Linked DNA regions of Homo sapiens. The protein of the gene in region 3 purifies or fractionates together with the protein of the main gene of each other region. This does not show direct contact. Each region holds a gene or a part of one and is shown on either strand. Other genes may lie near its edges.

Evidence for each region.
Region 1: the proteins of PRRC1 (region 3) and SHMT1 fractionate together in Homo sapiens (co-fractionation; one large-scale study listed by BioGRID). This does not show direct contact.
Region 2: the proteins of PRRC1 (region 3) and FERMT2 purify together in Homo sapiens (affinity purification with mass spectrometry; one large-scale study listed by BioGRID and IntAct). This does not show direct contact.
Region 4: the proteins of PRRC1 (region 3) and NPEPL1 fractionate together in Homo sapiens (co-fractionation; one large-scale study listed by BioGRID). This does not show direct contact.

The regions. Positions count from the first base shown.
Region 1 is NC_000017.11:18,356,762-18,361,423, forward strand, and holds part of SHMT1 (serine hydroxymethyltransferase, cytosolic), read right to left. Parts: intron 3,792-4,662; exon of another isoform or gene 3,653-3,791; intron 1-3,652. UniProt on the Homo sapiens protein: Interconversion of serine and glycine.
Region 2 is NC_000014.9:52,877,762-52,882,423, reverse strand, and holds part of FERMT2 (fermitin family homolog 2), read left to right. Parts: intron 1-595; coding exon of another isoform or gene 596-628; intron 629-954; coding exon 955-1,180; intron 1,181-1,285; coding exon 1,286-1,388; intron 1,389-3,734; coding exon 3,735-3,842; intron 3,843-4,662. UniProt on the Homo sapiens protein: Scaffolding protein that enhances integrin activation mediated by TLN1 and/or TLN2, but activates integrins only weakly by itself. Binds to membranes enriched in phosphoinositides.
Region 3 is NC_000005.10:127,515,569-127,520,978, reverse strand, and holds the start of PRRC1 (protein PRRC1), read right to left. Parts: upstream 3,340-5,410; 5' UTR 3,203-3,339; intron 1-3,202. UniProt on the Homo sapiens protein: May act as a regulator of the protein kinase A (PKA) activity during embryonic development.
Region 4 is NC_000020.11:58,694,927-58,699,588, forward strand, and holds part of NPEPL1 (probable aminopeptidase NPEPL1), read left to right. Parts: intron 1-3,757; coding exon 3,758-3,847; intron 3,848-4,270; coding exon 4,271-4,352; intron 4,353-4,662. UniProt on the Homo sapiens protein: Probably catalyzes the removal of unsubstituted N-terminal amino acids from various peptides.

The sequences.
Region 1 (4,662 bases), on a different chromosome or scaffold from region 3:
TGTGGAACTTCTGGTTCCTTTCCAAACTGCAGACGTCAGCTCATCTCCCTCAGAAATGAGAACTGACCCTCCTCCCCACCTGCAGGGAGCCCAACTCCGCCTCCTCTCAGCCAAACTTCTCATGGATATAGCTTATCTCCCACAACTAAACTAAGTTCCTTGAAGGTAAGGACTGAGTGCTACTTTTTAAAAAATCTCCTGCGGTACCCAACACTGCTATACATGAAGAATATTTTCCGGCCGGGCACGGTGGCTCACGCCTGCAATCCCAGCACTTTGGGAGGCCGAGGTGGGCAGATCACAAGATCTGGAGTTGGAGACCATCCTGGCCAACCTGGTGAAACCCCATCTCTACTAAAAATACAAAAAATGAGCTGGACGTTGTGGCACATGCCTGTAGTCCCAGCTACTTGGGAGGCTGAGGCAGGAGAATCTCTTGAATCTGGGAGGCAGAGCTTGCAGTGAGCCGAGATCACACCACTGCACTCCAGCCTGGCCATAGAGCAAGACTCCACCTCAAAAAAAAAAAAAAAAAAAAAAAAAAAGAGTATTTTCCAAATGACTGAACAGATGAATCATTGACTTGAAACAATTCCACTGGCAGGGAACTGGCAGGCCCTCATAAAATAGTAAATATTCACTATTTAGCAACTTTTCAAAAGATTTTTTGGGACACACAAGTTAATGATGAACAGGATATAGGCAGTTGGGATCATCTTTCCAGGATGACCACCAGTAGTATTTTATAAATGATAATGTAAGTACAGCAAATAGCACCTATTCACTCAGTCTGGACACATTTCTCCAGGCTCCAGAAAAATGTAAATGGGAGTTTTGCTATAAGAAGGGCCTCAAAAATCTCTGTACGATTTTTGAATACATAAGGACCTCATTTTAATCCTAGCAACACTTTAATGTGTTAATTTATTTCATACTTCAAGTAATGAAATTGAGGCTCAGGGCCAGGCATGGCAACTCACACCTGTAACCCCAGCACTTTGGGAGGCCAGGAGTTCAAGACCAGCCTGGGCATTGCTACAAAAAAAAAAGTTAGCTGGGCATGGTGGGATGGGCCTATAGTCCTACCTACTGAGCTAGGACTCTTTTTTTTTTTTTTTTTGAGACAGAGTCTCACTCTGTCGCCCAGGCTGGAGTACAGTGGCGCGATCTCGGCTCACTGCAAGCTCCACCTCCCGGGTTCATGCCATTCTCCTGCCTCAGCCTCCCAAGTAGCCAGGAACACAGGCACCCACCACCATGCCTGGCTAATTTTTTTTTTATTTTTTCAGTAGAGATGGGGTTTCACCGGTTAGCCAGGATGGTCTCGGCCTCCCAAAGTGCTGGGATTACAGGTGTGAGCCACCGCGCCCAGCCTGGGCTAGGACTCTTAAAAAAAAAAAAAAAAGAACTAAAGAAAGAAAAACGACGTTAGAAAAGTGAAATATTGTGGCTGGGCGCAGTGGCTCATGCCTGTAATCCCAGTACTTTGGGAGGCCGAGGTGGGCGGATCAGGAGGTCAGGAGATCGAGACCATCCTGGCCTACACGGTGAAACCCCATCTCTACTAAAAATACAAAAATTAGCCGGGCGTAGTGGCTCACGCCTGTAATCCCAGCTACTCGGGAGGCTGAGGCAGGAGAATCACTTGAACCTGGGAGTCAGAGGTTGCAGTGAGCCAAGATCACCACTGCACTCCAGGCTGGCAACAGAGCGAGACTCTGTCTCAAAGAAAAGTAAAATATCTTAGCCCAGGGCTGCACAGAAAGTTAGCCACAGAGGCAGGACTCGAAACCCCAAAGCACATGCTCTAAGTAATCCACAGAGTTCCTGTGAAGCTGTTAGTTAAAATATGTACTTGGGCTGGGTGTGGTGGTTCATGCCTGTAATTCCAGCACTTTGGGAGGCTGAGGCAGGAGGATCACTTGAGCCCAGGAGTTCAAGACTGGCCTGGGCAACATGGCAAAGCCCCATTTCTACAAAAAATACAAATTATTAGCTGGTCGTGGTGGCATGCATCTGTAGTCCCAGCTATTCAGGAGGCTGAGGTGGGAGGATCACCTGAGCCTGGAAGCTAGAGGTTGCAATGAGCCGTGATTGTGGCAGTGCATTCCAGCCTGGGTGACAGAGTAAGACCCTGTGTGTGTGTGTTTTTTTCTTTTAAATAAAAAAAGGACTTGTTTGAATATAAATCTTCCTAAAGAATTACAGGTTGGGCTGGGCCCAGTGGCTCATGCCTGTAATCCCAGCACTTTGGGAGGCCAAGGCGTGCGGATCATGAGGTCATAAGTTCGAGACCAGCCTGGCCAACATGACTAAAAATACAAAAATTACCCAGGTGTGGTGGCAGGCACCTGTAACCCCAGCTACTTGGGAGGCTGAGGCAGGAGAATCGCTTGAACCCGGGAGGCGGAAGTTGTAGTGAGCCGAGATCACACCACTGCACTCTAGCCTGGGTGACAAAGCAAGACTCTGTCTCCAGGGGAAAAAAAAAAAAGGGCCTGGTATGGTGGCTTATGCCTGTAATCCCAGCACTTAGGGGAGTCAAGGCAGGAGGATCCTTTGAGCCTAGGAGTTCAACCACAGCCTAGGCAACACAGTGAAACCACGTCTCTACAAAAATTTAGAAATTAGGCTGGGCAAGGTGGCTCACATCTGTAATCCCAGCACTTTGGAAGGCTGAGGTGGGCAGATCAACTTGAGGCCAGGAGTTTGAGACCAGCCTGGCTAACATGGTGAAACCCTGTCTATAGCAAAAATATAAAAAATTAATTGGGTGTGGTGGCACACACCTGAGGCATGAGACTTACTTGAGCCTCAGAGGTGGAGGCTGCAGTGAGCCGAGATTGTGCCACTGCACTCCAGTCTGGGTGACAGAGTGAGACTGTGTCTCAATAAAAAAAAAAAGGCCAGGTGCAGTGGTTCACGCCTGTAATCCCAGCACTTTGGGAGGCCAAGGCGGGCAGACCACAAGGTCAGGAAATCAAGACTGTCCTGGCCAACATGGTGAAACCCCATCTCCACTAAAAATACTAAAATTAGCTGGGTGTGGTGGCGCCCGCCTGTAATTCCAGCTACTCAGGAGGCTGAGGCAGAAGAATGGCTTGAACCCAGGAGGCGGAGACTGTAGTGAGCAGAGATCACACCACTGCACCGCAGCCTGGCAACAAAGCAAGACTCTATCTTAAAAAAAAAAAAAAATTATTTGGCCAGGCACAGTGGCTCACACCTGTAACCCCAGCACTTTGGGAGGCCAAGGCGGGCGGATCACCTGAGGTCAGGAGTTCGAGACCAGCCTGGCCAACACAGCGAAACCCCGTCTCTACTAAAAAATACAAAAATTAGATGGGCATAGTGGTGGGCCCCTGTAATACCAGCTATGCGGGAGGCTGAGGTAGGAAAATCGCTTGAACCCAGGAGGTGGAGGTTGCAGTGAGCCGAGATCATACCATTGCACTCCAGCCTGGGTGACAGAGCAAGACTCCATCACAAAAAAAACCAAAAAGAAATACACAAGGCCAGGCATGGTTGCTTACACTTGTAATCCCAGAACTCTGAGAGGCTGAGACGAGAAGATCACTTGAGCCCAGGCGTTCAAGACCAGCCTAGGCAACATGGCAAAACCCTGTCTCTAAAAAAAAATACAAAAAATTACCCGAGCCTGGTGGCGCACGCCTGTATTCTCAGCTACTCTGGGTGGCTGAGGCAGGATGATCACTTGAGTCCCGGAGGTTGAGGCTGCAGTGAGCCCAGATTTTCCCACAGCACTCCAGCCTGGCCAAGAGAACAAGACCCTGTCTCAAAAAAAAAAAAAAGAAAAGAAAAGAAAGAAAGATGCAATAAATGGGTGCAAGGCTACTTTAGACTGGGTCAGGGAACGTCCCGGAGCTGAAATCTGAGCTGTGGAAAGGAGCCAACCATGAAATCTGGGATGAGAGCAATCTACGCAGAGTAAACAAGTGCAGAGCACCCCAAGTTCAAAGGCCAGACAAAGGAGAAAGTGTGACTGGCCAAGGGTCAGAAATCAGGCTTGCACACCTGAAGTCTGGGGAGTCACAGGACCACAAGAGTCAAGACCACCCTGGGCAACATAGGGAGACCCCGTCTCTCTAAAGAAAGAAAAAAAAGCGGTCAGGCGCGGTGGCTGACGCCTGTAATCCCAGCACTTTGGGAGGCCGAGGTGGGTGGATCACTTGAGGTCAGGAGTTTGAGACCAGCCTGGCCAATATGGTGAAACCCCATCTCTACTAAAAATACAAAAATTAGCTGGGCGCAGTGGCTCAATTCCTGTAATCCAAGCACTTTGGGAGGCCAAGGCGGGTGCATCACCCCAGGTCAGGAGTTCGAGACCAGCCTGACCAACACGGTAAAACTCCATCTCTACTAAAAATACAAAAATGAGCTGGGTGTGTGGTGCGCACCTGTAACCCCAGCTACTCAGGAGGCTGAGGCAAGATAATCGCTTGAACCCAGGAGGTTGCAGTGAGCTGAGATCGTGCCACCGCACTCCAGCCTGGACAACAGAGCAAGACTCTGTCTCAAAAAAAAAAAAAAAAACAAAAACAAAAATTAGCCAGGCATGGTGGCATATGCCTGTAATCCCAGCTACTCAGCAGGCTGAGACCAGGAGAATAGCTTGAACCAGTGAGGTAGAGATTGCAGTGG
Region 2 (4,662 bases), on a different chromosome or scaffold from region 3:
CAAATTGTTATTTACGTAACCTCTACTATATGTCTAGCCCTAATACTAAGAAATCAGAAGATAAATAAGGCAATATCCCTTCCTTTTGAGATTTGACTATTAAATATATCTCTGTTTAGACTCTTTCTAGGGCAGACTTTTATCTCCCCTTTTACATTAATACTTTATTTGTTGTACCCCAGAACTTAAAAATTAAAAAAAACTTTATTTGTAAAATTGTTGAAACCTGTTTATTCACTGAGAAGACTTTACTATAAAATTATTCTTAATCTATATGAATTCAGTTCTATTGTGTTACCTTCAAATTGTATGGATTTCAAATGGTGGTAAAAGTTGTAGACATATTTGTCACTATATACTTGACTACAGCACAACTTCATTCTTTTAAATTGAACAAAAAAAACCGTTTTACTTAGGTTGTAGCTTCTAAGGTTCTTTACTCTGAAATCCACTTGAAATGTGTACTTCAGTTTATGATTCACAATTAGGGAAAATCTGTTTTTTCTTTTTCTCATTTTCTTTTCATTCTTTTGTTTCTGTCCTCTGTTGTGGCCTTTCCTTTACCTTCTGAATTCCTTTCTTTCCTTTCCTATAGGCACTGATGTTCTTTACATTGGCCCTCTGAAAGGTGAGCCTTGCCACAATTTAAAGACAAAAAGTGTTGGTCTGTCTGCTTCAGCTATATCCTTATTTTCTAATTCTCTTGAACTGATTTTTTTTCCCCAGAATTTCTGCCAACTTAATTATATTCTTAAGGCTTTATTACGTGTTTTAATGTTATACAAGGAGAATTAATTACACATGTTTTCATAACAGGTAAAATAATATACTAAGCTTTCCTTTCAGAATAAAACTTTTGTTTCACAATGTGCTTTATATCATAATATGTGTTATTATTGAAAAATAAGATGCTGTACTGCATACTTACTACCTGTTTTTCATGTTACTTATTAGGAAGTATATATTCAAGCCCAGGACTGTATAGTAAAACAATGACCCCCACTTATGATGCTCATGATGGAAGCCCCTTGTCACCAACTTCTGCTTGGTTTGGTGACAGTGCTTTGTCAGAAGGCAATCCTGGTATACTTGCTGTCAGTCAACCAATCACGTCACCAGAAATCTTGGCAAAAATGTTCAAGCCTCAAGCTCTTCTTGATAAAGCAAAAATCAACCAAGGGTAAGTTTTAAGATATAGATAAAATTGAATTTCTTCATCCAGCTAGAGGTAGAAATATTGTCTTCATTCTGTGTTGTTTTGTTCCACTGTTCTTAATTTGTCCAGATGGCTTGATTCCTCAAGATCTCTCATGGAACAAGATGTGAAGGAAAATGAGGCCTTGCTGCTCCGATTCAAGTATTACAGCTTTTTTGATTTGAATCCAAAGGTACCGAGGGTTTAAAGGGATCTTTTTTTTTTCCCCATTAATTTGTTTTGTTCACATGGATGTTTGTTTTTGGAAGTCGGTGGAATAAGGAATTATTTGTATATAGGAAATCTTGAATAATTATTAAAAACCCAAACTTTTAGGCAAAGGTATTTGTATTTTAAATAAGTCTATTTTAGTAGGTTGGAAGCATAACTAAACCTTTTTATTGTTGTTATTAAGATAATGAAACTTTTGGCTGATTTGGTTTTATCTTTTTTTTAATCTCTAAGCTCTTAGAGTGTCATGATTTGTATTTTAAAGGTACTCTTTTGGTACTATAGAACTGGCAAAGTTTAGGCCGGGTGCAGTGGCTCAACGCCTGTAATCTCAGCACTTTGAGAACCCAAGGTGGGCGGATCACATGGTCAGGAATTCAAGACCAGCCTGGCCAACATGGTGAAACCCCGTCTCTACTAAAAATACAAAAACTAGCCACGCATGGTGGCACACGCTGGTAATGCCAGCTACTTGGAAGGCTGAGGCAGGAGAATCACTTGAACCTGGAAGACGGAGCTTGCAGTGAGCCGAGATCATGCCACTGCATTCCGGCCTGGGCAACAGGGCAAGACTCCATCTCAAACAAACAAAAAAAAGAATTGGCAAAGTTCATTTTTAAAATATAAGACCTCTCTTCAACTATATTTAAATAAAAGTTTCAAAAAGGTTACCTTTTCAATTACTTTTAGATTACTAATTACGTGCCAAAAGATGTTGCTTCAAAAAAACGTTTTTTTCTTGAGACAGGGTCTCACTCTGTCCTCCAGGCTGGAATGCAGTGGTATGATCATGGCTCACTGTAACCTCAAAGTCCTGGACTCAAGCCATTCTCCCACGTCGCCTCCCAAGTAGCTGGGACTACAGGCTCACCCAGCCACACCTGGCTTTCTTATTTTCTGTAGAGACAGAGTCTCACTATTTCACCCAAGCTGGTCTCAAAACTCCTGGGCTGAAGCCATCCTCCTGCCTCAGCCTCCCAAAGTGCTGGGATTACCGGCCTGAGCCACCATGCTCAGCCAAATTTTTCTTAGGTCTACATTTTTTTCCTCTGTAACAGACAAACACTGTTACTTGTCTTTACTATGATTGGTATTATCTCTGCTACCATAGTACTTCACTTTTCTGGTAAGATTTAACTTTACCATAAATATCTGGAGCTTTTTTCCCCCGTAGAAAACACTTGGCACAGAGGTTTGAATCTTTTACTTCTCTTTCAGCCTGGGGAAAGAAACCTCTCTTGGCTACCCTCTCATCCTTTTCATGTTTAGAGTATAGTCTAGATTTTAATGTTATGTTTACATTCTTTTATTATATGCTTAAGTAATTCTTTATACAACAGTAAAATCTCTATAATAAAATTATAGAAAATAATTTTAATTCATTTTCAGGCCACATCATACCTACTTTTAGTAAAGCCAAAGCTACTTTGGGAATAGTTACATTTGTGAGGGGAATGGAGATGTATTTTGTCAACGTTCTAAAATACATGTTGAGCATTCCTAATTTGAAAATGTAGAATGCTCCAAAAGCTAAGACTTTTGAGGGCTGACATGATGCTGAAAGGATATGCTCATTTTGGATTTTTATGTTAGGGACACTCAACTGGTATAATGGAATATTCCATCATCTATAAAAATTCTAAATTCAACACAGAAGGTCTCAAGCATTCTGGATAAGGGATACTCAATCTGCAGTATTCTTAAGGCATTACTATTGACTTTTATTTATATAATTAAATGGATAATTGAATAACATATAAGTAAACATTTTCCACAAGTATATTTGCCCTGTATTTTGCATACTTAAAATAACTGCCGTTTCCAAGGACTTGCCACTTTATCTGGGTATGCTTCTCCACAGTGAACAAAATGTTCCCCAGAATAATTTGCTTTCTGATTACATGTTTGTATGGCAAGTTGCAGTAATAACACTGAAAAATAATCGGTAGTTCCGCCTTACTTTAATGTCATCAAATTAGATTTCTTATGTTAAAGGCTATAATGTCTAGTGGTTATTTCCCTGAAAAATAACATACAGAATCTACTTTTTAATACTGTACAATCAATTATTCTCTGTCATATTTTAATGTCATTTTTAATGGAAAATTAGATGTGGGCATATATAGGCATGTCTGACCCCATAGGTATCCTTCTAATAATACTTGATTGTAAATAAAAATTCTTGCTTGTAAATTAAGATCCCAGGAAAAAAAGCATTAAATTTTTCTTGTCAATTGAATATTCAGAGTTTGAAATTTTTCAATGGTAAAGGTTATATATTACAAAAGAACTATTTCTCTTGTTGCAGTATGATGCAATCAGAATCAATCAGCTTTACGAGCAGGCCAAATGGGCCATTCTCCTGGAAGAGATTGAATGCACAGAAGAAGAAATGATGATGTTTGCAGCCCTGCAGGTAGTTGAAAGGTCTAGTAAATGGGACTTATTCCGGTAAAGGGTAGGGAGGTATTTTTAAACAGTAAAGTGGAATAGTAATTCCAGTAACATTTCACGAGACAGAATTTTTGCCATGAAGAAAGTGAGTAGACACTTAGGAAAGCAAAACAAATACATTTTAGTTTGATTTTTTATCTTTTCCAAGAGTTCAGTGGTATACTTAAGTACTTTTCTCTATTTTGTAGGAAAAAAATTATCCTATTTTGTAGGAAAAAAATTATCCTCTCACCCCCAAATATAAATCTGCTCAAAGCTCCTCAGTTTTTCCTTGGAAAGAAAATATTTATTAAAAATCAGATTTCTGAAATCTAATCTGAAGCTTACCTGTATAATTTCATAAATAGCCAGGGATGATACAACACACTATAAAATGGGCTGTAGCAAAGCGATGCTTTTAGGTGATAAGATTTAGAGAGACTAGTGGAACCAAACCTTTTTCTACAATGATAATCCTTAAGTAGATAGCTAACATTGTCCTTAGATTAAACCAGTTTTTTCATATGTGGTTCTTACATACCACCTCCTTCAGAATTATAGGGGAGCTTATTTAAAAATTAATTATCCACTTCATGAATAACTTTAAGGTGGCATCCACACATCCACATTCTTACAGATACTGAGGTCTGATGACCAAATTAATTCATCTTTCTTAAATTTCAGATACCCGAGTAATGCTTTGGCAAGTATTCCCAGTTATGACGGGATTCTAGGTTCAGCCTAAAGTCCTGATGAAGTTGGTGTTCTATAAATAACAGAAGTACAGGAAGCAGAGTTGACAT
Region 3 (5,410 bases):
TGAAGGAATTTTAGGTTCAAAAAAAAAATGTAGAAACAGCAGAGTTCTTGAGTACCCCAAACCCAGCTTCTCTCAGTAACAGCATCTTACATAACTACACTACAATGATCAAAACCATGAAACTGACATTGGTACAACACTATTAACTATAGATCTTATTTGTATTTCACATGTTTTTACATTTACTGTGTGTGTGTATGTGCATAGTTCTATGAAGCTTCATCATATGCACAATCTCGTATAACCACCACCTCGACCAGGACATAGAACCATTCCATCACTAAAAAGAAACTTCCTCATGTTGTTCCTTTATCTACCTTCCCGTCAACCATAAGCCCTGGCAAACACTGCTCTGTTTTCTATCACTTTCTCGTTCCATGAATGTTACATAAATCGAATCATACAGCATATAACCTTTTGAAGTTGGCTTTTTTTCATTCAACATAATGTTCTTGAGATTCATCCAAGCTGCTGCATATATCAAATTGGTTCCTTTTTATTGCTGAATAGTATTCCATTGTATAAATGTACCTGCTGAAGGACATTTAGGCTGATTCCAGTTATTAGCAATTCATATTTATTTTTTGAAAAGATCTGAACAAAGTATGCAGCCTGGGCCACTGGGCAGACAGAGCAGATGCAGACAGGCCATTAAGGAAGATATAGAAGTAGTTCCATCAGAAGTAAGTAACAACCTAGACTAATGATTTTCATAGTGGGAAGGGCTGATTATGCCCCCAAGGGGTCACTTGGCAATGTCCAAGACATTTTTTATTGTCACTACTAGAGGGCTACTACTGGCATATAGCATGAAGAGGTTAGGAATACTACTAAAAATCCTCCAATGCACAGCCTACACACAAGAATTAAGTGGCCCCAAATTTCAATAGTGCCAAAGTTGAAAAACTCTGACCTAGACTCAAGTGATGATAGTGGAGATGGAGAAAAGTAAATAAGTTCAAGACAAGATTAGGTGGCAAAATTCAGTGACTGGGTATGGAGGAAGGGAAAGGAGGCATGACTTGCACAACTAGATAGATGGTGGTGCCATGCACAAAGATAGGAAACACTGCAGAAGGCCAATGTGTTTGATGTTCTTTCTGGGGGAGTCGGATGGGGGAAATCATAAAATGTTTAGTCTTTGACATGCTGTTTAAGTTCCTTGAAACAAACATCTAAGTAGAGACACTGACTTGGTCTGGAGCTTAGCAACCACATAAATGTGGGTGTCATCAGTGTACTGATAGTCTAACGTCATGTTTTGAGATGAGATTACGTAAGAGAATACCAAGAGAAAAGAGAATATGATGTTAAACCAATTATTGGTTTAGTAAGATGGAAGACAAGTTTGCAGAGAATAAGAGATGAGCTAAAAGAAAGGAAGAAAACCAGGAGACTGTGGTGTCCAAAAGCCAGAGTTTCGCAGTATGAATGGGCAACAGTATTAATGCTGCAGAGAAGCCAAATAGGATACTATCTGAGAAGTTCAATGGATCTGCCAAACTGGAGATGAATTTAGGGAGAACGGTTTTCATATAAAGAGTGGAGAAAGATTCCAGTGTAAACTGAATCGAGCAGTGGCAGGTGAGACTAACACGCATGACACTTTCAAAAAGTTTGGCTGTGAACGTAGGAAAGATCTATGGCACTAAGCAGAGAACAGGGATCCGGGGAGGCTGAATCCTTTCATTCAGTACCTATACATCGAAGGTAAATAACCTGAGATAGAAATGCCCCTTTGGAGATTTTACCACTCCTCAACCAAAGCTCCCTCTTTTCTTCATTTAATTTTTTATTGGTCATTCACCCTCTACTACAGATGCTCCCCAATCCTTACAATGACTAGTAGAAGTCCTATTGTAAGAGAATCCCTAACATTAACAAATGTGTCTGCAAAAGAAACTGTACAATGAATACAAAGTCATTAAGTGGAATAAATAATCAATTTCTTTGTCTTTAATGGCTTTTTATATGAAAACTGCCGTAATGGCAATACTGAGGTAAATTTTACATGCATAAACATAGTGCCTTCTACTAAAAAAACCTATTATGATAAAACAATACTGAAGTGTCAGAGTTGGTAACTGTTTTAGGGCTCAAGTCTTGTCACGAAAAGTACTATTCATATATCAACACTAAAGAAAAAGTGAAGAAAATGGTTTGGAAAACTGAGTTCTCAGTCCGGCTAGACCCTGTTGTTCCAATTTGCTTGTGCCTTGGTTTTTCTGTTAAAAAAAAAAAAAAAAAGTGGATGTCTATTTACAAGTTTACAAGAAATGGAAGAGTGAAGCTCTGATAAACTTTAAAGCATTAAGAGCAATTATTGCTGACCTACTCGTGCCACAAGATTGTCTCTACTACCAAACAGTGAGCGCTAGTTAGAGCCTAATCTGACCCCGAAATAAAATTTTATAAATTTTCACTGAATTAAACACTGGCTGCACAGGAGAAAGACTGAATGCCAAGATGTGTCACGATCGCAGAAATGCACATGTTGTCTCTCAAAATAACTACTTCGAATGACAAAAACACTATTGGCTATAAATTCTGTCAATCTAGGAAACGTGCTATCTGCAAATTTGCCTGAAGCAGGTCCCAAGACCAAACAAAGAAACGAGAGAATGCAAAAACTCTCCCAAGCGGCGCTAAGCACCGATGGGGTAACCTCAGGGAAAATAAGCTTCCTTTCATTGCAGGTCCTGGTGTGATGACTCTCGAGCCTCCTGGGCCTCTCCAGGGCCAGAGCGGCCGAAATCCTGTTTCAGGAGACAGCGGCTTCCCCTCAGGCTCTGCCACGTCTCCAGGCCAGACAGGGCCGGGCTAAGGTCCGCCGGCGCTCCCGCCAGTCTCCCCTAAAGTCAGCGCCCTGGAAGGTGGGGCCAGAGCGCTCCTGCCTTGGTCCTTGGACAGGAGCAAAGTGTCGCGGGGCGAGACCCTCGAACCGCGCCCACCGTGCCATCCCCAGCGGAAACTGCTCACCTTGCGATGTGCACTCCTGCCTGCTGCACCCCGCACGCCGCCACAGCTGAGCCTGGACCACGGGACTAGGGGGCTCGCAAACGACATCGGCGTCCAGTGGCGCCGGCCGGCCCGCCCACCTTCCAGGGACACCGTCCCTCGGGGTCTGGCTCTGGCGCCTGCAAGCCATGCCATGCCATGCCACCCCCCTCATACACGCCCCTCGGAGCCACCTGGCGCTCACCTGGGGACCGGGAAAGTGCCTGCGTGGTCGCTGAAGAGTGTGGTATGATAGGGAGGTCGGGACGTAGAACTACAGCTTGGAGAAGACAACGAAGGCGCACCCTGGAAGTTACCTCGGCGTGTCCCCGCCTACAAGATGGCCACGGGCGGCGCATGCTCCTGCGGCTGCCACGTCGGCCGCGCGCCGCACCGCGCCGCGCGTCGCCGCCCCGCCCCGCTCCGCCCCGCATCGCATCGCCCCGCTCCGCCTCCGCATCGCCCCGCCCCCCCTGTCCCATGCGCTGTGAACCCGGCCGGGACGCTGCAAGTTAAACTTTGGAGCCAAGATCTTCCTAACTACCGAGACTTGGTTCTGCCCACACCCTCTAGAAACATCTTCCAAAGGGCTGGCCTCCTTTCTACTTCGCAGCCCCCTTACACGAGAGTGGCACTCTTGTTACCAGGCGTAGCTCACTCATCCTGTGCCACAGCGGCCCAAGGGATAAGATCAGTTAGCCAAGGTCATCTGGTTGGCGGTCATCTAGCCAACATCAGCTAGTCCAGTCAGCACCTCCAGGAAGGACCTCGCGGCAGATACAGGGGACTTAGCCTGTATAGTCAAAGATTTCCAGATAACAGTGATTATATCAGGAGAGAGGGATTAGGAGAAGAGGGAGAGGGGAGAAGAGTAGCAGTTACTGTACTGAATTTTTCCCCAAGTGCATGTATTGCACATTCTTTTTTTAATTGTAAAATAGACAGATTATCAACTTTCTTATTATATGCTGCACCTAACACAGTACCTGAAATAGTTGGTGTTCAATAATGTACATTAAATAAATTAATGGAGTGCGATAGAGGAAAATAAGGAACTTCAAATCAGAAGTCTTGATTTGAGTCTGAGACTACTCTAATGCCAGTTGTACAGTTGCCTGCCCTTGTACAGGTCACTTAGTCTCCATAAGTCTTCATATTTCTACCTGCAAACTGAGAATAATACTATCCACCATCCCTAAATCAGGCAGGTGACAGACTCAAATAAAATAGAGCATATGAAAATTTTTTAAACTTTTTGTCTTTTTGAGATGGTGTCTTGCCCTGTTGCCCAGGCTGGAGTGCAATGGCGCCATCTCGGCTCACTGCAACCTCTGCCTCCCGGGTTCAAACGATTCTCCTGCCTCAGCCTCCCGAGTAGCTGGGATTACAGGCACAGGCCACCACACCCAGCTAATTTTTGTACTTTTAGTAGAGACAGGGTTTCACCATTTTGGCCAGGCTGGTCTCGAACTCCTGACCTCGGCCCGCCTCGGCCTCCTAAAGTGCTGGGATTACAGGCGTGAGCCACCGCACCTGTCCGAAAACATTTTTTAAATTGCTTAGCATTAAATATATAAAAAATTGTTTTTGTTGTTCTCAATTTTTTTTCAGGAACTCACTTAGAGATTTCACATTAATCTATCTCTTGAGCTTCACAGTTGTAAGCATTCCAAAATACCTCACTGAAAAGTTAATACTATGTAGCAATACTCTGACTTCAGATCTCACTGTGCAACTACCATGGGCGGTTTTCTTTGGCGGTGGCTCCTATCCTCTAAGAATGTGTGTAGGTGGAGATCCAGGTTACTGTCCGGATCGTGCTGTTTGGGGTGGTGCTAAAGACAGATAACCATCTTCATCCTCTCTGATCAACACCCTTAATAGCTATAAGGTATGTTGGTTTCTCCATCCTTTCAGCAAATATTTATTAGTGGCTGCAATGTGCTGAGCATTGGTACTGGAAATGCAGTAACGAACAAGACAGACAAGGTCTTGATACCTAGGGAGCGTTCTTTATAATAGGAGAGAGGGTAGGAACAGGAAAATAAAGTAAGTACTGTTTGTGATGTGCAGTTTGAGGAGTCAACAAAGAGTGATGTAATATTGACAGTAATTGGAGTAGACCACTTCAGATAGGATGAATGGGCAAGGCTTCTCTGAATAGGTGAGATGTGAGCAGAGACGTGTAATGCAGCAGGCCTGTGCTTATCCGGACAGAAAGAAGGGCATGCAAAGACTTAAGGATGGAGTGTGCTCGGCATGTGCGCAGACAACAGGGAAGCAGGACTGTGAGAATGGTAAAGAAGACAGGACAGGGAGTGGGGCCAGATCGTGTCTAGCCTTGTAGGTCATGGGAAAGCCTTTGATTACACTCTGAGAGAAATGAGAAGCACGTGGAGGGTTTTGAGCAGAG
Region 4 (4,662 bases), on a different chromosome or scaffold from region 3:
TATGTGCGTGCACATGTGTGTTGCTGTGCGTGTATGAGTGTATGTGCATGTGTTGTATGTGTGGGGGGTGTGTGTGTGCATGTGTGATGTGTGTGTGTGTGTGGTATGTGTTGCTGTGTATGTTTGCTGGTGTGTGCATGAGTGGTGTGTGTGGTGTACGTGTGGTATGTGTTGCTGTGTGTGTGTGTTTGCTGGTGTGTGCATGAGTGGTGTGTGTGTGTGGTGTGCATGTGTGGTGTGTGCATGTGTGGTGTGTGTTGTTGTGTGTGAGTACTGGTGTGTGCATGAGCAGCATGTGTTGCTGTGTGTATGAGTGCTGGTGTGTGCATGAGTGGTGTGTGTGTGTGTTGTGTGTGTTGCTGTGTGTGTATGAGTGCTAGTGTGTGCATGAGTGGTGTGTGTGTGGTGTGTGTGCATGTGTGTTGCTGCACCCTTTACAGGGAGCACTTCTACATGTGTTATTTCACTCAATGCTGAGAATGATCCTTTTGAGGCTGCAAGGCCGGAAGTGATTTCCCAGCTCCAGATCCTTGGATGGGCCTGACATCAGGCTCCTGTCCCCACGGCAGCGGTCCCAGCCTCTGCGCCTGCCACCTCCAGTCCCCGAGCCCACAGCGCCACCCAGGTTGTCTTTTCTCATGTGTCAGCGCTCATTCTTCACTTCTGGCTCTGGAAGGCTGTCGCCTTCACCCAGGCAAGCTCTCCCACATCAGCACTTGGGCCACACCTCATTTCTTTCACTGTGTGCTCTCTGAGGCCTGTAACCACTGCCCCTCAACCCAAATTCTTCCATCTTCACCAGCATGAGATAGCTCCCCTTTTTTCCCTTCGTCTCTGAGCTTTTAAAAAAGTCTAACTGGTTTGCCTTGCTTAATCCTCTTTTCCCTCTTAACCCATGGAGACAGAGTTTTTGCCCCCATCCTGACATTGTTTTCTAAGGACTGCTGGATGGGGTGTTGCCGTCCCTCCTTGAAGTGCATCTGCCCCATCCAGAGGTCTCCCTCCCTCCCGCTGCTCCCCAGACTGCTGCCACCTCTCGGCATCCCCTTCATGGCCTCTCCAGCGTTCCGACCTGCTCAGCCCTCTCCGGGTCAGACACCAGCATCTGCCTCTTCTCTCTGTCTTTAGGGATTTTCTTCTGACTTCCAGGCCTGCCATCCAGGTGGGCACGGGTGCCCGCAGAGCCCACCGGGGGCTCAAGCATCACCCTTATTTCCGAGGACAGCAGGGCACCCTGACCTCTGCTGCCCTCAGTCCCTTCCCCTCCTGTGGACTTCCTGCTGTCCCTTAGACTGGCCACGCCCACTCCTGCTCTTGCTCCTCTGCAGGGGTCCTTCCCTCTCCAGCCCAGCATGGTCTCCATCCAGCCTCTGCCCACATTCCCTCCCCAGGGAGGCCTGGCCCTCTTGGCTAGCACCACCCTCCCATTTGTCAGCTAAACCATCACTACTAGACATGTCACATCTTTGTTGATCTCCTGTGCTCCTCACTGGGTTGGGAGTCCCCAGAGGGCAGGGACCTGGTCTTGTGCACAGTGATCCCAGCACCCGACCCCACACATGAAAAAGGCCCAGTAAACATCTGGTGATGGAACCAGTGGGGGCAGTCAGTCCCCATGGCCCCCGACCCCATTGGTCCCAACTAGCTAGTGTGTCCTGTTTCTTGTCTTTGCTCTGCCCAGTGCCGTGCCTTGAGGTGCTCTCCTGGGCTGTGGCAGCAGTCTCCTGGTCACCCTGCCACAGATGGCCTCCTTCCAGCTCCTGCGTCACTCGCCTTCCAAAGGCACATCTGGGTGTGTGCAAGGTGGCATCTTCTGAGTGCTGTCAGCTGTCAGGCCCTGCGCTGAGGCAGGAGTGTGCACACAGCACGTGCTGGTGCACTGAATTCTCACTACAGCCCTGTGAGATACATCCTGTTGTCCCCACGACATTGAGTGGCTCACCGGGGCCACGGCAGCAAGGGGCAGAGCCAGGTGTTAAGCTGCAGCTGCCACCACTCAGCCCTCTTGGGTCCTGAGCACACCATCATCTGACACCCACGTGGCCTGTACTCAGCTTCTCCCTTTTCTTCCCTGCGGGAACCTTCCAGTCCCCACCCAGGACCCTGTCCCCTCTGCATCCTGTGGCCTCATCCTCTTCTGTAGCAGGGACTGGGACTGTGTACTGTGAGTCTCTGCTGAGCTTGACTCCCTTGGACGTCTCTGAATTCTCAGAGTCTTGCACGATGCCTGGCACATGTGGACAGAATGAGTGGTCCTCCTCTCATGGTAAGGGACACCCTTCCCCAGTGCAGCATGGCTGTGTGTTGGTGGAGGGCACCCGCAGCCCTGCCCTCCCTCCCACAGGAGCGCTCTTGCGTCAGAGCCCCGAGCTCGCCGTGGTCTGGGGTCTTCCAGGTGACACCTGGCCTCCTTGGAGGCAAGTCACACAGCATTGACGCACTTCTCAGACAGTCCTTGTCGAGTCCCCACATGCCCTCACAGACAGAGAACCCGCTGACAGGCGGCAGGGACGGCTCAGGCACATTCATATCAGAGCTGTCAAGGTCCAGGTTTCTACCTTTGAGGCTTTGGGGTTTAATTACCTCGGCAGGGCGGGGGAGGTGGCCAGGCTGCAGTATCGACCCGGCGCCTGCTGCCCTGACATTATGAGACTAGAGGCAGGGATGATAAACTTGCTGCTGTCCTGCACCCCCGCAAAACAGCGCTGCTCTTCTCTTAATATTGTCTTTCTGGTGAGCAAGGGAGGCCGTGCAAGCAGCCAGCTGTCTGAAGCTTCTGTGCCTGGGGATGCACAGTGGGGAACAGGGTGGGGAAGGGGTGCCCGCAGATTCAGCTGAGAGAGAGTGAAGCTCCCAGGGCAGATGTGAGACACACATGAGAAGGCAAAGAATGGCCCAAGCCAGGGCTGAAGGACACATTTTTGGGACCCACGTGATGTGTGCTTTGGTGCATGTGCCCCTCTCTGCCCTGCCTTCGAGTGTGGGCTCTGAAGCCCTGCCAGGCCAGCAGGGCCCATGTTTTCAGTTCCTGGGTGGACACGTCAGTTCCATGAGGCGAGACCTCCCTCTGTGTCCTTCCCCTCCGTGCCCAGAACCGTGCTGTGTCAAGTGACAGCACTAGGGCAGCCAGACCCCCATCTGTCTTGCAGGGTTTATGAGGGACTTGCGTGGGACTCATGAGGAAAGCAACGGCCCAGAGGGAAGGCGTCTGGGAGGGCCAGCAGGTTCAAGCACTCAGGATGTAGAGTGCTTCTGCTTGGTGGGGAGGATCTGGAAAAGCTACTGGTAGATACGGCCTATGAGAAGTGCCTCGAAGGATGACTGGGATCTTGGTGGGAGGGAAAGGACTGTGGGATCTGCAGAGGTGAGGCGTGGGAAGCTCAGGGCATACTCAGGGGCTGGCATGAGGGCCACCTACCTTCAGTTGTAGCTGGAATCAGGGGAGAAACAGGACACAGGGCTTGGAAAAGATCCAGATACAGAAGGGCAGGACCCCAGGCTGGGGACTCCTGTATATTTGTGGAGGCGCAGGGTGGTGGCTGTGCTGAAGGTTCTTTCTACAGGTGGCCGGTGGCCCTGGGTTGCTGGGGGTGGGGCAGGCAGCGAGAGCCATGGTCCCCCTCTCCCCTCTCTTTGCTGCCCTGTCAGTAGCCCTGTGGGTGATGTTTGCCTCTGCTGCCTTTTGTTCCTGGGGGATGGACAAGGGGAGAACATCTGCCTCCCACCTGGTCCCCAGTGATGGCCTTTTTCTCCCTAGTGCTTAGCGAATGCCACAGACGGCGTGCGGCTAGCAGCCCGCATCGTGGACACACCCTGCAATGAGATGAACACCGACACCTTCCTCGAGGTTTGTGGCGTCATCAGGCCGGGGGTGGGACCAGGCTGGGGTGGGTGTCATAGACTCCCAGGAGAGCCAGAGGAAACCTGGGGCTGTCCACACCCTGACGTGGCCAGGGAACCTCAGGGCTGCCCTCGGCGGAGCGCTGCTGTCTGCCGGGCTCCAGGAAGCCTCAGGAAAGGGTGTGTGGGGAGGACAGAGCCTCCTCTTCAAGGCCCCTTGGCAGGACCACAGCCAGAGCTACAGGAAATGAGAGTGTGTGGAGGGTGAGCCCCCTCTTCTGGGTTTCATCACACGCGAAGCTGGCTCCCAAGCCCGGCTCCCCGACGCGGCACAGGCAGCGGTTCATCCCTGGCCCCAGCCTCGGCCTCTCCTGTTTCCAGCCATCTTCATGTGTTGTTGTGCTGTTGTTTTTTCCATGAACATGTCCAGGAGATTAACAAAGTTGGAAAGGAGCTGGGGATCATCCCAACCATCATCCGGGATGAGGAACTGAAGACGAGAGGATTTGGAGGTGGGTGGGGGCTGCATCCCTGCAGCTCTTGGCCTCGGGCAGTGGCCAGGGGCACTTGGGTGGCAGGGGGTCGGCGGGCCACATGGCACATTGTCCCAAACTTCATCCTGCTTGTGACCTGAAAGGAATCAGCCTGTGTCCAAGCCCAGTGCCGGACCCTGGGAAGCAGCCGTCCCTGGGGGAGAAGGGGAGGCAATCCAGATTCTGATTTGGATTCTGGAAGCTGCTAGATCCAAGTCCTTCCCTGCCTGCAGCCTCTCCAGCGTCCTCGCGTGCTGCACACCCTTACTCCTGGGACTGGCTCAGCAGG